Regions from separate parts of the Homo sapiens genome. Here region 2 is linked to region 1. The links come from fine-mapping of genetic effects on gene expression. Tissue or cell type: testis. Region 1 holds a variant in brackets; the other region holds the start of a gene. All regions are shown on one strand. Distances are between the middles of the regions.

The links. PIP is the estimated chance that this variant, and not a neighbour inherited with it, causes the effect.
Region 2: it holds the start of SUSD2, and the variant in region 1 is fine-mapped to the expression of SUSD2 in testis (GTEx, PIP 0.99).

The regions. Positions count from the first base shown.
Region 1 is chr22:24,226,451-24,234,525 of GRCh38, forward strand. GGT5 (gamma-glutamyltransferase 5) reads right to left here. Exons shown (of 12, transcript NM_004121.5): 2 at 7,424-7,554; 3 at 7,048-7,143; 4 at 6,373-6,568; 5 at 5,601-5,758; 6 at 4,934-5,080; 7 at 181-317. Among named protein-coding and RNA genes, the nearest start is that of GGT5, 15 kb to the right of the region's middle. The variant T/C (reference allele first, on the strand shown) is at 4,340.
Region 2 is chr22:24,177,751-24,185,825 of GRCh38, forward strand. SUSD2 (sushi domain containing 2) reads left to right here and starts at 3,737. Exons shown (of 15, transcript NM_019601.4): 1 at 3,737-3,845; 2 at 5,307-5,517; 3 at 5,745-5,896; 4 at 6,386-6,553; 5 at 7,016-7,190; 6 at 7,344-7,545; 7 at 7,736-7,821; 8 at 7,911-8,075. The coding sequence starts at 3,770. It overlaps CABIN1 (calcineurin binding protein 1), which reads left to right. Exons shown (of 37, transcript NM_012295.4): 36 at 1-67; 37 at 303-878. The coding sequence ends at 446. RefSeq lists enhancers at 5,707-5,786, 5,857-5,966.

The DNA.
Region 1 (8,075 bases):
GCCACTCCTGCACCTGACCCCTGTACCTGCCACCCCGGGATCCCTTTCAGTCCTGCCCTGGCCTAGAACCACATACATATCCCTCCAACTTCCCCCTACCAGGCCTGACCCTCATTTCATGCCAAGTCCTGAGCCAGGGAGGAGGACGGCCCACCAGCCCAGCAACCTCAGCAACCTCACCTGGAGCTTCGGGTGGCTTCGAGGGTCCCCCAGCCTCCACCTCTGCCCCTTGGCAAACTTGAGCGTCTCTACAAGGTGGTGGTACACGTTCACCCTCCCTTCAGGCCTGGCCATAGACTCTGTTGAGAAGTTGAACCCTGGAGAGAGGTTGGGGCACAGGTTGGTTGGGGTCACCCTATGTAATGGGTTGAATGTTGCCCCCACCCCCCACCACAGAAAGATCCACCCACATCCTAATTCCCAAAACCTGTGGATATTACCTTATACAGCACAAGAGTGACTAATACCTTAAGTGGAAAAGTAAGTTAAGGATTTTTTTTTTTTTTTTTTTTTTTTTAGACAGAGTCTCACTCTATTGCCCAGGCTGGAGTGCAATGGCGCAGTCTCAGCTCACTGCAATCTCTGCCTCCTGGGTTCAAGTGATTCTTGGTCCTTAGTCTCCTGAGTAGCTGAGACTACATGTGTTCGCCACCACGTACAGCTAATTATTTTTGTATTTTTAGTAGACAGGATTTCGCCATGTTGTTCAGGCTGGTATTGAACTCCTGGCCTCAAGTGATCTGCCTGCCTTGGCCTCCCAAAGTGCTAGGATTACAGGCGTAAGCCATCATGCCCCGCCTTTTTTGTGTTTTTTGGAGAGGAAGTCTTGTTCTGTCACCCAGGCTGGAGTGTGTGGCACGATCTCAGCTTACTGCAATCTCCACCTCCTGGGTTGAAGTGATTCTCCCGCCTCAGCCTCCCAAGTAGCTAGGACTTCAGGCACAGGCCATCATGCCCGGCTAATTTTTGTATTTTTAGTAGAGATGGTGTTTTACTGTGTTGGCCAGGCTGGTCTCCAACTCCTGACCTCAAGTGATCCACCCTCCTTAGCCTCCCAAAGTGCTGGGATTACAGGCATGAGCCACCACACCCGGCCTAAAGTACGTTAAAGATTTTGAGAGGAGGAGATGATCCTGGATTATCTAGATGTGCCCTGAATGTGACCACAGTGTCCTTGTAAGACAGACACATAGAGGAGAGGACACACAGCAGAGGAGAAACCAGTATGATCATGGAGACAGAGACTGGAGTGAGGCAGCCACAAGCCAAGGAATGCTGGCAGCCACCGGAAGTGGGAAGAGGCTGTGAAAATTTTCAAAATAGAGCGGCAGCCAGCCACAGTGGCTCACACCTGTAGTCCCAGCACTTTGGGAGGCCGAGGCTGAGGTCAGGAGTTCAAGACCAGCCTGACTAACATGGTGAAACCCCATCTCTACAAAAATACAAAAATTATCCAGGCATGATGGTGGGTGCCTGTAACCCCAGCTACTAGGGAGGCTGAGGAGGGAGAATTGCTTGAACCCGGGAGGAGGAGGTTGCAGTGAGGCAGGATTGCACCACTGCACTCCAGCCTAGTAAACAGAGCAAGACTCTGTCTCAAAAAAAAAAAAAAAAAACAAAACAAAAAAAAAAAAACTCTGAAAAATAGAGCCAGGGAAAGGCCATGAAGACAGGACTCTCGTGCACAAGTGCCCCGTTCTCGGCTGGGTGCAGTGGCTCATGCCTGTAATCCCAAAACTTTGGGAGGCTGAGGTGAGAGGATTGCTTGAGTCCAGGAGGTTGAGGCTGCAGTGAGCCTTGACAGTGCCACTGCACTCCAGCCCAGGTGACAGAGCAAGACCCTGCCTCAAAAACACAACAGCTCACAACCTTACAAGAAGGCCATCACAATCTTACACAAAAAATACTTCTGCAAAGACATCTGCCCATGAGTGGCCTGTCCAGTGCCACCCTTATCACTTTTCCATGCATCCTACTAGCCAAGGATGATCATTTCAAAACAGTTTTTTTTTTTTTTTGAGACAGAGTCTCACTCTGTTGCCCAGGCTGGAGTGCAGTGGTGTGATCTCAGCTCACTGCAAGCTCTGTCTCCTGGGTTCACACCATTCTCCTGCCTCAGCCTCCCAAGCAACTGGGACTACAGGTGCCCGCCACCACGCCTGGCTAATTTTTTGTATTTTTAGTAGAGACAGGGTTTCACTGTGTTAGGCAGGATGGTCTCGATCTCCTGAACTCATGATCCGCCTGCCTTGGCCTCCCAAAGTGCTGGGATTACAGGCGTGAGCCACCATGCCAGGCCCGAAACAGTTATATACCAAAGCTAAGCTATGAGGACGCAAAGGAATAAAAATGATATAATGGGCCAGGCATGGTGGCTTATGCCTATAATCCCAACACTTTGGGAGGCCGAGGCAGGTGGATCACCTGAGGTCAGGAGTTCAAGAGCAGTCTGGCCAACATGATGAAACCCTGTCTCTAATAATACAAAAATTAGCCGGGCATGGTAGCACACATGGGTAGTCCTAGCTACTCGGGAGGCTGAGGCAGGAGAATCGCTTGAACCGGGAGGCAGAGGTTGCAGTGAGCTGAGATCGCGCAATTGCACTCCACTCCAGCCTGGGTGACAAGAGCAAAACTCCATCTCCAGAAAAAAGAAGGAATGATATAATGGGGCCCAGCATGGTGGCTCACACCTGTAATCCCAGCAATTTGGGAGGCCAAGGCAGGCAGATCACCTGAGGTCAGGAGTTCAAGAGCAGCCTGGTCAACACGGTGAAACCCCATCTTTACTAATAATACAAAAAAAAAAAATTAGTTGTGGTGGCAGGCGCCTGTAATCCCAGCTACGTGGGAGGCTGAGGCAGGAAAATCGCTTGAACCCAGGAGGCAGAGTTTGTAGTGAACCGAGACGCACCATTGCACTCCAGCCTTGGCGACAGAGCGAGACTCTGTCTCAGAGGAAAAGAAAAATGCTCTAATGGACTCTGGGAACTCAAGGGGAAGGGTGGGAGGGGAATGAGGGATAAAAGACTACACACTAGGAACAGTGTACACTGCTTGTGTGATGGGTGCATCAAGATCTCAGAAATCACCACTAAAGACCAGATGCGGTGGCTCATGCCTGTAATTCCAGCACTTTGGGAGGCTGAGGCAGGCAGATCACTTGAAGTCAGGAGTTTAAGACCAGCCTGGCCAACATGGTGAAACCCCATCTCTACTAAAAAAATAAAATAAATAAATAAATTAATTAATTAACCAGGCTTGGTAGCGTGCACCTGTAATCCCAGCTACTCAGGAGGCTGAGACTGGAGAATTGCTTGAACCTCAGAGGCAGAGGTTGCAGTGAGCTAAGATCATGCCACTGCTCTCCAGCCTGGGCCACAGAGTGAGATTCCATCTCAAAAAAAAAAAGAAAAAAAAAAGAAATCACCACTAAATAACTTTTCCATGCAACCGAACACCACTTGTTCCCCAAAAACTAATGAAATAAAAATAAAATAGCCAGGCAGAGGTGGCTCACGCCTGGAATCCCAGCACTTTGGGAGGCTGAGGCAAGTGGGTCAGTTAAGGTCAAGAGTTCAAGACCAGCCCGGCCAACATGGTAAAACCCCGTCTCTACTAAAAAGATAAAAATCATCTGGGCGCGGTGGCTCATGCCTGTAATCCCAGCACTTTGGGATGCCGAGGTGGGCGGATCACCTGACATCAGAAGTTCAAGACCAGCCTGACCAACGTGGCAAAACCCCATCTCTACCAAAAATACAAAAATTAACTCGGTGTCGTGGCAAGCGCCTGTAATCCCAGCTACTTGGGAGACTGAGGCAGGAGAATTGCTTGTACCTGGGAGGCAGAGGTTGCAGTGAGCTGAGATCGTGCCATTGCACTCTAGCCTGGGTGACAGATTGAGACTCTGTCTAAAAAGAAAAAAAAAAAAAAGGAAAAAAAGAAAAGATAAAAATCAGCGGCGTGTGGTGGCCCATGCCTGTAATCCCAGCTACTTGGGAGGCTGAGTCAGGAGAATCACTTGAACCCAGGAAGCAGAGTTTGCAATGAACCGAGATTGTGCCACTGTGCTCTACCCTAGGCGACAGAGCAAGACACCGTCTCAATAATTAATAATAATAATAATAATAATGCAATGAAAAAAATAAAATGTACAATAAATTATCATTGATTGTAAACAAAAAAGTTATATAATCTTCCTCATTTTCTCTTTGAAAACTTTTGTCTTCCTTCACCTCCCTGAATACACACATAGTTTACCCTAGCATGGGTATTCCTACCGCGATGCCTACTCTGGAACAAACATCATTTTCTTTGAGAGCCTTGTTCTGTTTTT[T/C]ATTTAGGTCAACAAGGCAAAGAACAGATTCTCCCCTGGAGCCCCCAATGGAATGCAGCCCTGTGGACACCTAGATATCGGGCTTCTGGCTTCCAGAACTGTGAGAGGACACATTTCTGTTATTTTAAGCCACCAAGCTTGTGGTGATTTGTAATGGCAGACACAGGACACTAATATTAAGCCAGCGCAGGCAGCCCCAGGCCTCAGCACTGCCAGAACCCCCCTGCAGGCTGCCTTGGGCTAGGCTGGCTTCGCTCCCCCAGGTGCACGCCCCTGACAGGCAGCTCACCACCCACACAGCCCACCTGCTTCTGTGTCTGGGACTGGTCACCCAGTGGGAGGAGGACTCTGGACGAATGATATCACGCCCTTCAGCAAAGCCTCACGTATGGGTCGAGCTGGAGGCCAGCTCTAAAACCCACCATCCTGATTGGTTTCCACAGCTCTGTCTTCATATTGTGCATCTGTGAACCCGGTTTATGGAGGAGGAGGCTGAGCTGGGCCTTGGCTGGGCTTGGGCTTGGAGTCTGAGTTCCCGGGGGCCGGGGGTGCGGGGGAGGGGGTGGGCGCCAGGGCTCTGGGCAGGGGCTTTACCTCTTAGCACGTTGAGGATAAAGCTGAGAATGGCACCCCCTGCAGGCGGCGGTGGTGAGTACAGGGTATAGTCCCCCAGGGGCACCTCCAGGGCATCCACCACCTCGGGCTGGAACTTGGCCAGGTCCTGCAGCGTCAGCTGGCTCCCTGGGATGAGAAGGAGAGGGCTCCATGAACAGATGGGAAACTGAGGCGGGGAGGAATAGCCACTGCTGTCAGGTCACACAATGGGATTCCACTCATGCTTTTGCCTTGTGGACACAGGATGATGGTAGGTCTGTAGGCAGTGGCCTCAGGACTGGCCCCTTGGGGCCAGGCGTGGAGGGGTGGACAGAGACCAGAGGCAGGGAGGCTGGGGAAAAGAAAGGGAAGATGGGAGAGGGAGCTGGCTTATGAGAGCCTGTGAGAATGGTCAGCTCGGCTACCCAGACCTGCCGTGACCATCGGTAACGCCCCTCTGCTGGCCCTAACCCGCAGGCTCTGCTCTCTGAGGTCCTGGACCACAGGGGTCCTTGGGCCGGCAGAGCTAGGTGCATGGCCTCTCGGGGTCCCGGGCACTGCCTGCACTCCCTCAGGGCCTGGGAAGGAGCCTGCCCTCAACCCCCAGTGCCCAGAACTTGGCTCTTCCTCCAGCAGGGATGGGGTATGGAACCTCAGGGAGGCTGACCTTCCTTGGCAATGTCCTCCACCAGCATCTGGCCCAGCCTCCCCGTGTAGAAGACCTCCACGCCCTCTGTGGCCACGGTCTCCAGGGTGGTGGCCAGTGCAGGCCATGGGAGTGGGTCCTGAGGCCTCAGGGGTTCTGTCCCGTTGAAGAAGAGCTGGCTGGGGGGTGGGGGGAGCCTCAGGGTGGGGCCAGGTCCCAGAGGCAGCCACACTCTTCCGGGGCTCTCATGGGTGGAGTCCTCAGGACCCTACAGTGGGGGGCGCCCTGGCCCAGGGTCCCGAGGCACTGGGGTGGACACCGGGGAACTGATTCTCTAGGAGGTGGTGGGACTGACACCACTCACCCAGCTCATGGCCCTGGTCCAGGGAAGGCAAATTTCCCAGTGGGGCCTGGGTCCACCTAGGGCCTGTCATCTCACTCCTGGGAGGGCCTGTCAGTGGGCTGGGTGGGGCAGGTGAGAGTGGCAGTTGAAGCCCTCCTGCCATGCCAGAGAGAGGAAGAAGGAGGCCGGGGCCCCAGGGCGGGTGGCAGAGCCCAAATCCACACCTTGGAGTCCTATCACTTGGGCAATAAACTCCCCGCAGCCTAACCCCAAGTTAGGCTCTGCCACGGGGAGCTGGAAGGGCCATGAAAAGTACTCTTTGTCCTGGCCAGCACCCCGAGGGTCAATCCTCCAGTGTAAGAGGGACTGAGGCAGAGCTGGGGTGTGGACTGGGCCCAGACAGGATATGGCCTTGAACCCAGGAACCCAGGGCCACCATGTGGGGCTCACCGCAGGGTTGACGCCTGCAAGGAAGGCCGCAGGATGCTGTTGTGCAGGAAACGGCTGAGGACAGGGGCCACCACATGCCCCCCTCGGAGCAGCGCGATGGTGGGCTGGAACAGCTGCGCCCAGGGCAGGCGGCCATGGCGGCGGTGGGCCTCGGCATAGCCACGGAGCTCCCCGGGCACCCCGATCCACTGGGCCCCTGCATGGCACATCCCAGCTCTCAACCCTGTGGCTTCCAGGCCTTCCCAGGTTTGCCATCACCCCTACATGTGGCCCCCCAGTTACAGCAGCCAGAGTGAGCTTTCTGGAGCCCACACCCGACCACGTCCCTCCCTGCTCAAATCACCTGTGGCTCCCCACAAAGTCCATGGCCAAGCCCAAGGGGCCCTACACAAACTGGCCCCAGGAGCCCCACCCTGCCCCGCCAACCCATCTCCACTGAACCCTCCAGGCCTTTGTCCAGCCTGGTCCCTCTCCCTGGATCACCTCAGAGAGCCCGTTCCCAAGGGGGACCTTCTCAATCCCTGCAGGTTGGGGCTGGGGGTTCCCCACAGGCTCCGTGTCCCCCCGTGCCAGGGAGTCACAGCCTGTCCGTGAGGCGCTGCTCCTTTGCGGGGGTGTTCTGATTAGTCCTAGTGGCCTGGGGGGTGGGAGTGGGGGACCTCCATGGGGCGTCACCTGTGCCCAGTGGCAGAGCCTGTGCACACTGGTCCAGCAGGCTCGGGGCGTGGCTGGCCGGCACCGTCTCCCGGGCATTGATGACCTCCACCTTCCCTGGAGTAGGGCAGGGCAGGTGAGTGGTCATGGACCCTGCAGACAGCCCCTGGCCTGCTCTAGGCCTCAGTTTCCATCTCTGCATTATGAGATGGACTCTGGGCTAACACAGGGACAGGAGTTGACACAAGGGCTTTGCACAGCTGAGGCAAATGGGGCAGGGCAGGGGGCCCAAGAACACCCAGAAACGGGCTTGAGTTGATGGGACTGGCTGGAGAAGGGGTTACGCAGTGGTGTGGACAAGCCCATCTTCCCCATGGCAGTTCACATGTGGGCCCACCTGTTGTCACATTGTAGATGGTGAAGATGACCCCTCCGCCCAGGCCCATGCTCTGAGGGTTGACGACGCTGGTGCAGACCAGAGCCGCGATGGTGGCATCCACGGGTGAGCCCTGCTGCTGGAGGATGGCTCTAGGGGACATGGCACAGAGTCGCTGTGGGGCTCCCCTCCCCCTGCCTCCCCACCAGGCTTGCTCAGCTGGCACTCATTGGAGAATGGTGACGGAGGCGGCACGTCGGCTGCCACCAAACCGCAGATTAGGTTGCAGAACACAACCAGGCTTCCCCATCAAATCCAGCTGCTCACAGGTCCACAACACACTACGGTTGCAAAGTGTGATGCCATTTACACTGACCTTTGCCATATACAAGGTGCTTCTCAGTTTGCAAAGTACTTCTGTTGCCATTGTTCCCAGCAGCACCAGCTCATATGCTACAGGCAGAACGAGGCCTCGGCCACCTCTCAGTCCCTCACAGTGGCCTCAGGAGCCCACCCTGGGACTCCACTCCCCATCTCACTGGGGACACTCTGGCCACAACTACTTCAAGGCTGGCCTTTGGCAGGTGATCCCAGGATCCTTCCCTGCCAGCAGGGCATAGGGCTTGAGCTGATGGACCCCAAAACTTCTCTTGGGACTCTGAGCCTATGGAAA
Region 2 (8,075 bases), 49 kb before region 1:
GCCACCCACCCCAACCCTGCTCTCCCCCAAAGGCAGCATCTCGGAGGAGACCAAGCAGAAGCTGAAGGTGACCTCAGGGGCTGGGCTGGAGCCATGTGTGGGTGGGAGGCATAGGTTACAAAGGGGGCCTAGGATGGGGGTGGGGGTGGCAGGAGGGCCTGGGGTGTGGGTGAGGATGGCATAGGGGCCTGGGGCAGGGGTGAGGGTGGGAGGGGGGCCTGGGGCAGGGGTGAAGGTGGCAGAGGGGCTTGGGGCAGAGCCCAGCCATCCTTGACCAGTGCCCCGCCCGGCCCTCTCCGCAGTCAGCCATCCTTTCTGCCCAGTCTGCTGCCAACGTGAGGAAGGAGAGCCTATGCCAGCCAGCCCTGGAGGTCCTGGAGACATCCAGCCAGGAGTCCTCGCTGGAGAGCGAGACAGACGAGGACGACGACTACATGGACATTTGAGGGGCCACTGCAGCCCCACCGCCACGCCCCAGGGGACCAGCCAGGCCTGGAATGCCCCCTGGGCAGGACCCTGGGCAGGACCAGAGGCCCACATGGATGCCACTCCCCACACAGCCCCCAGGCCTGCCCAGCCCACCTCCTCATGGCATCCTCCCTGTACCCAGGTCAGGCTGTCCACACCACATGGGAGCCCAGAGGAGGAGGGGCCCGCCTTAGCCATGTGAAGGTGGATTGGTCGCCATCTGCACGCCAGGCGGCATCCTTTTCTATGAAGTGTTGACTTTGTAAATCTGCCCACACCCAGCTGGCCATATCCACCCCTCGACGCCGGGATGAGCCGGCTCTGCCTGTGTCACAGTGGAGGGGTCCTTTAGGGCCAGGCTCACCCCTCACCCTTTTTTTGGTTGCTTTTCTAATAAAGATGGAACAGTTGTCTTTGCCTCTTTGCTCACCTCTAGGGGGCAATCTGGCAGAGTCTCTGGCGGAGAGTTGCTGTCCCCAGGGATTCTGGGCCTTTACTGCCATAGTCCATAGGGCAGGGCCTAGCCCCCCTCCTTCTCCAGCATCTCAGGGACCAGCCAGGCAACCAAAGCAGCGGCTGGGGGTGCCCAGTGGGGTAAGGAGAGAGCCGACTCGGGGCTGGGCCAGGCAGACGCCTCTAGTGCAGCTGGAGCCAGGCTTCAAAGGGGAGTTAGGTGCATCCCCAGAACGCACCTGGGTGCCAGTGGGTGGGAGGCTGTACGGTGGGAGGGCAGGCAGGGCTGGGGCAGCTGAGAGGCTGGGAGGAGGGGGCTGTCAGGGAGGGAAAGGGGGGATGGGGCCGGCAGGGAGGGTACTTAACTCCCATCACAGTCGCCCTAATGGGGCCAGTCACAGAATAGCTGGGCTCAGTGCAAGACATAAATATGAAGCTCCTTGATCAAAAAGGATTAAGGATTTTTTTTTTTTTTTTTTTTTTTTTTTGATATGGAGTCTCACTCTGTCTCCCAGGCTGGAATGCAGTGGCACGATCTGCAGTGGCACGATCTCAGCTCACTGCAACCCCCGCCTTCTGGATTCAAGCGATTCTCTTGCCTCAGCCTCCCGAGTAGCTGAGATCACAGGCACACGCCAACACGCCCAGCTAATTTTTGTATTTTTAGTATAGACGGAGTTTCACCATGTTGGCCAGGCTGGTTTCAAACTCCTGACCTCAAGTGATCCACCCACCTTGGCCTCCCAAAGTGCTGGGATTACAGGCCTGAGCCACCACCATGTCTGACCAAAAATGATTAAGGATTTTAAGGCAGGCCCCACAGAGCATTAAGCCCCTAGAGCTGGCACCCTTCACAACTCTCTTCCCCTCCCAGCACCGCAGGGGCCCTCCTGGCCCTGGGACCTCCCATGGAGCAGGCTCTCTGTCCAGGATGGAGATGGGGACCCTCCTCACTGCCCTGTGCCCCTCATGGGCTGGACATGCCCACCACCCAGGAGGAAAGGCGTAAAGGGCTGGGCACCGCCCTTTTGGAACCAGAGGCTTGGTGGCCCCAGATGGGTCTGGCTGAACCCGCCTTTCGGGGGGCTGAGATAAGCCAGCCCCAGTTACTCAGCTGACGCCCCCTCCCTGCAGGGCCTGGGGTATGGAGCTTCCCAGACTGCACACCTAGCCCCTACCGCACTTCCATTGTCTCCAGACACGCGCAGCAACGGTGCCCAGGCCAAAAACAGGAAGCAGCAGCTCTCCCTCCTCCAGTTCCCGGGAACTGTCTCAGCCGATCCCCCAGCACCCCTCCCTGGAGCCTCACCTATAGGAGGACGGACACCTCGGACCCTCCCCTGCACCCAGTGCTGTAGGGAGCAACTTCAGCCCTGGGCCTGGGATGAATGCCCTCGCCAGCCTGGGGCCAGGAGACAGGCTCTCCCTGGCTCAGCACCTGAGCGTCCACTTACAGGACACTCACCTGCAGAGGTGCCCTGAGCGCCATTGTGGGTTAAGGGACTTTCTCCCCTCTGGAGACAGTCCCTGAGAAGCTGAAGGTCTTGGGGGCCTCTCACCAAATGTCTTTGGGAGGTGGGAAAACATCAAATGCGGGTGTGGCTTCCCTGGAACAGCTCTGTGTGGGGACTCAGGAGCCAAGTCCCCCAGCACACGCCTCTAACACTTTCAGTAGGGGCCACCTCTCTGGAGCCACGGGTGGCTGCCAACACCCTGTGGTTCCCAGCAGGCACCACCCAGGCAAGAGAGAGAACAGGCCGGGGAACAATGGGCTGGCCTGGCCGCAAGCGCTGGGGCAGATCACAGACCGGATGGCCTAAGCTCATGCCCTGGGGCCACCTCTGACTCCCTGCAAGTGTGGCAAGGGTCCCTTTTGGACACCTTGAGAAGCTGCAGCTGGGAGAGGACCACCCGCCTGTCTGGATGTCCAGCCCAGGTGTCAGGGTCCAAATGACCAGTCCCAGGCCGCAGCCCTTACCACCCGCCCTGGCTGCAGGGGCTCCCAGAAGCCACCAAGGGCCTGGCTCGGCCTTGCCTATCCGCATCTGAGCTTCAGTTTCCTCATCTGCTCAAGAAGGGAGGTGAATACTGATTAAATTATGCAAACTCTTAGCGGCAGGATTAGGTGTGGCTGGGACAGCCAAGGCTCCCCAGGGTGGTGGCATCTCTGGAGCCCGGGGATGGGCCCTGTCTCCCTTCCGGGCCCCCCGCTGGGCTTGGGTACCTTCTCTCCCCTTCCTCCTTCCTCCCTCCAGAGGGGACCCCTGCAGAGCTGCCTCCGCCCCAGGGCTCAGCCTGTGTCTGACCCAAACAGCTCCTGCCTCCCCCTGAGGATGAGTTGGGTGCACCTCCTTCCTGCAGGAAGATGAGGGCTAGAGATGGAGGTCTATGTCAGGGCCACAGAGTCTGGAATCCTCCCTGGAGCTAAAACAGCCCTGCCTTATTCACCCTGCGCATCCCATCCTCTGCTTCAGCCCCGCCGGGCTCGCCCTGCATGCAAGGCGGGGCTGGGACCCAGGGTCTGAGCTTCGCCCTCTGGACATCCGGCTCATCGCCTGCCAAAGGTCCTGTGGCTGGAGGCTCCGGCCTCCTCACCCTCCCACAGGGTCCCAGGGCCGATCCAGGCCTGCGGGCCAGGAATGTGCTAACGGGGCAACTTGGGCCTTGCTGGTCCACGCAGGCACCTGTGGACTTTGAGAGGGGACTGGGTGGGGAGGGGCGGGGAGGGGCGGGGCGGGGCGGTGCCGCAGAGTGCAGGGCGGGCGGGGCCAGGCCAGCAGGGAGTGAGCTTGTCTGGCCGCCTCGCCTCGGAGCCACTGCACTGCTGGCTGCAGACACAGGCTGCACCATGAAGCCAGCCCTCCTGCCCTGGGCCCTGCTGCTGCTGGCGACAGCCCTCGGCCCGGGCCCCGGACCCACAGCAGGTATGCCTCCCTGCCCTTCTGTGTCCCCGTCTGTCTGTCCATCTGTCTGCAGCCAGGCCTGGGCTGACATCCCTCTGGGCTCAGCCTCTGTCCATCTGTCAGGCCATCTGTGGCTGTGCTAGGGGTGATGGGAAGAAATTCTGAGGGTCCATGTGGAGGGGCAGCCCATGGGGATGGGAGGTCTGAGCCGGGCCCACCCTAAACCTGCTGGTAGCTAGGAGGGAGGCGGGGGAGACCAGCAGAGGCCTCCGCCTGTGTCCCCAGCCCTGACAGGGCGGGATCACGGAGGGGGAGCCAGGATTGTGGGTCCTCATCAGGGTGGGGCTGAATCCAGGAAAGTCTAGGGAAAGCCCCGAACTCCAGAACCAGGACACTGGTCCCAGGCTGCCCCCCGTCCCCCACCCCATTTCCCATCGACCCTCTTGCCACTTATCTCACTTGCAAGCATCTCTCGGCCTCCTCCCCCGACCCCTGTGCGCCACCAAATCCTTGGCCAGTACATATTTATTGTTGCTTTTAAGTGCCAGGCACTGCACTTGGTGAAGTGGGGCCAGCGGGGTGGCTCAGGCCCAGGCCTGGCCCTCGACTGGCCTCTTTTGATGGGGGATGGGGAAGGGCCAGGGAAGTGCAATTCCAGCCTGGGTGCATGCACCTGCCCCAGTCCCTCCCTGCAACCCTTCCTTCATGCCAGCCCCTGGAAATATGGCCTTGCCCACCGGTCTTATGGCCCATAGGAGAAGTTTTGGGCCCGGCGCCCACAGCCCCTTGTGGTGTGCACCCCCACTTCCCTTTCCCCACTGCTGGGACCCCTGCTTGAAATGTCCCTCCTCTCCCCAGAAAGGAGGGGAGCGGCCCTGGCCTTCTGCCCTGAGCACGGAGCTCTCTTTGGGGTCTCAATTGCAGCCCCTGGGAGAGCGAGAAGTGTCACGTTCAGACCCTGCACCATTCCCTACCAGGCCTCAAATGAGACTCTTGGCAGCCATATCCCCCACCCCAGTCCAGGCAAGCAAGAGGGGTTCTTCTGCAGGCTTCAGGGCCCCCAGAAGGCGTGCTGACCACAGACACCCTGGGGAGCCAAGAGAGGTCGAGGGCTCCAGCTACCGTGGCCCACTGAGGACCCCTGCCTGTGGGATAGAGGACTTGGTGGCTGAAGGGCAGTCATGCCCAGGGGCTTCTCCTGACCCTGCAGGGCTGAGCGGATGCAGCTTTTTGCCTCTTCTCGCTGCATTCTAGCCCGTCAGTCAGGGCAACAGCCAGATGGTCTGTGCTAAGATTCATCCCATCCCCACGGGCCCTGTGGCTTTCTACTGTGTCCACCTGGTGGCCTGTGCAGTTCCTGGCCAGCGTTCTCCTGGGGATGCTGCTGTCTAATGGGCTGTGGGAGAAACAGAGACAGGCCCTGCACATGGGGCAGCCAGTCCAGTACCCGCCGGGCCAGGCCCTCAGCATCCTCTCCTCCAGATGCCCAAGAGAGCTGCTCCATGCGCTGTGGCGCCCTGGACGGGCCATGTTCCTGCCACCCGACGTGCTCTGGCCTTGGCACCTGCTGCTTGGATTTCCGGGACTTCTGCCTGGAGATATTGCCCTACTCAGGATCCATGATGGGCGGCAAGGACTTTGTGGTGCGGCACTTCAAGATGTCCAGCCCCACAGACGCCAGTGTGATCTGCAGGTTGGGAGGCCCAGGAGGCCGGGCACTGGGGCCCCACGCCCCCATCCCTGTGCATGCTGAGGGCTCAGACCCACTGACTGGCTGAGTGGAGCCCCTCGGACCCAGGACAGGCAGGAGGGCACAGGGACAGCTGGCTGGTTGGGTTCCCCAGGGAGGTTGGGGGCCCAGACCATCGAGAGGCTCAGCCTGCAATGACCCAGCCCCTCCCACCACCACCACGCCCACAGGTTTAAGGACAGCATCCAGACCCTCGGCCATGTGGACTCCTCCGGGCAAGTGCACTGTGTGTCACCTCTGCTCTATGAGAGCGGCCGCATCCCCTTCACTGTGTCACTGGACAACGGCCACTCCTTCCCTCGTGCGGGCACCTGGCTGGCTGGTGAGCCCTCCTCCCTGCCCACAGCCTGCCCCCACGGGGACTTTCCCCAGCGCTAATCTATGCACACCGAGACTTGGCCTGTCCGTGCCCTGCCTCTCTGGCTGAACCAGTCCCTTGGGAGGCCTGCCCGCCTGCGAGAGTTCCTTCAGCTCCTTTCCACTCCCTGGCATCCAGACCGCGGTCCCAGCCCAGAGTGAGTGGGAGCTGCAGGGGTCCCTAGAGAGGTGGGCCAGTGCCTATCCACTGAGCTCCGCCATGCCAGGGCAGGGGAGAAGCCAGGTCGAGGCTAGAGGCGTGGGCAGTGGAGGGAGGGCAGGCCCCTGCCTCTGCGGCCTCAGCGTCCTTTTCTGCTGTGCGGGCCAGAGAGACCATCACCCAGCTGCTGCCATGCATTGGCCCTGGAGGCTCCCACAGCCCTTGAAGCCTCAGGGCCTCCTCCCTGCTTCCCTGGGCCCAGGCCCTCACTCACCCCTCACCTCCCCTGCCCAGTGCACCCCAACAAAGTGTCAATGATGGAGAAGAGCGAGTTGGTGAACGAGACGCGTTGGCAATACTACGGCACCGCCAACACCTCAGGCAACCTCAGCCTGACCTGGCATGTCAAGTCGCTGCCCACGCAGACCATCACCATCGAACTGTGGGGCTACGAGGAGACAGGTGAGGCCAGCTGAGGGCTGGGGTGGCATCAGAGCTTTGGGCCCCCAGAGGGGGAGAAAGGGGGTCCCAGCTGTGTGGGAGGAGGAAGGGAGTTTCCAGGTGGGGTTGAGGAGGGAAGGGAATTCCAGGCAGAGATTGAGGATTCGGATGGAGGGAAGTGCAGGTCAGGGGGGTCAGGCAGGTGGGAGGGGGCAGCTCATGGGGCCTGGCTCCAGGGGAGGAGGCTCATGAGGAACCCCTGCACGGCTGGCATGGCCCTGGGCCCAGCTTCCAGCAGGGACAGGGATCCTGGAGTGTGGCAGGAGGTGATGGTCACCCAAGCCGGGGTCCCTGCTAGAACAGCCCCTCCTAAGGGGACCGCCTGGCGGTCCATCCACCCATCTGTCAGGCTGCTGTAGGTGGCAAGGCCTGGGGCCAGGCCTCGAAGGAACCCCAGGGCTAACCAGGCATCCTCTCCCTCAGGAATGCCCTACTCACAGGAGTGGACTGCAAAGTGGTCGTACCTGTACCCCCTGGCCACACACATCCCCAACTCCGGCTCTTTCACTTTCACCCCAAAACCTGCTCCTCCCAGCTACCAGAGATGGCGAGTGGGTGCACTTCGGATCATCGACAGCAAAAATTACGCAGGGCAGAAGTAAGAAGGCATGGATGTGCAGGTGATGGCTGGAGGGCCTCGCCGCCCGAGGCCCATCATGCTTGCCTGGGCAGCCCAGGCTGGGGGTGGGGAGAGTGGGGCGACCATGGGGTGGTGTGGGCTGGCCCAGCTCCAGCATCATCACCTCCACAGGGACGTGCAGGCGCTCTGGACCAACGACCACGCACTGGCCTGGCACCTGAGCGATGACTTCCGAGAGGACCCTGTGGCCTGGGCACGAACTCAGTGCCAGGCCTGGGAGGAGCTGGAGGATCAGCTGCCCAACTTCCTGGAGGAGCTGCCGGACTGCCCCTGCACCCTGACCCAGGCCCGGGCTGACTCCGGCCGCTTCTTCGTGAGCCTCCCATCAGGGCCCAGGAGAGGGGATGAGGGGTTAGCCTCCCCACTGAGGACAGCACCAGGGGAGGCAGACAGAGGTGTCCTGGAGGGTGGGGCTGGGGTCTCAGGACCCCTGCAGGGTTGGCCTCAGGGAGGGGATGACAGAACCCGAGGCCACTGGGTGACAGCCACCTGCTGCTCTGCAGACGGACTACGGCTGTGACATGGAGCAGGGCAGCGTGTGCACCTACCACCCCGGGGCCGTGCACTGTGTGCGTTCTGTGCAGGCCAGGTGAGCCCCCAGGCTGGGGCCGGTATGGGGATTGGGGTCAGGGGTGGGCTCCCAACAGTGGCCTGGCCCTGACTCACTGGCTCCTGCAGCCTCCGGTACGGCTCAGGTCAGCAGTGCTGCTACACAGCGGACGGGACGCAGCTCCTGACAGCTGACTCCAGCGGCGGCAGCACTCCCGACCGCGGCCATGACTGGGGCGCACCCCCGTTCCGCACGCCACCCCGAGTGCCCAGCATGTCCCACTGGCTCTACGA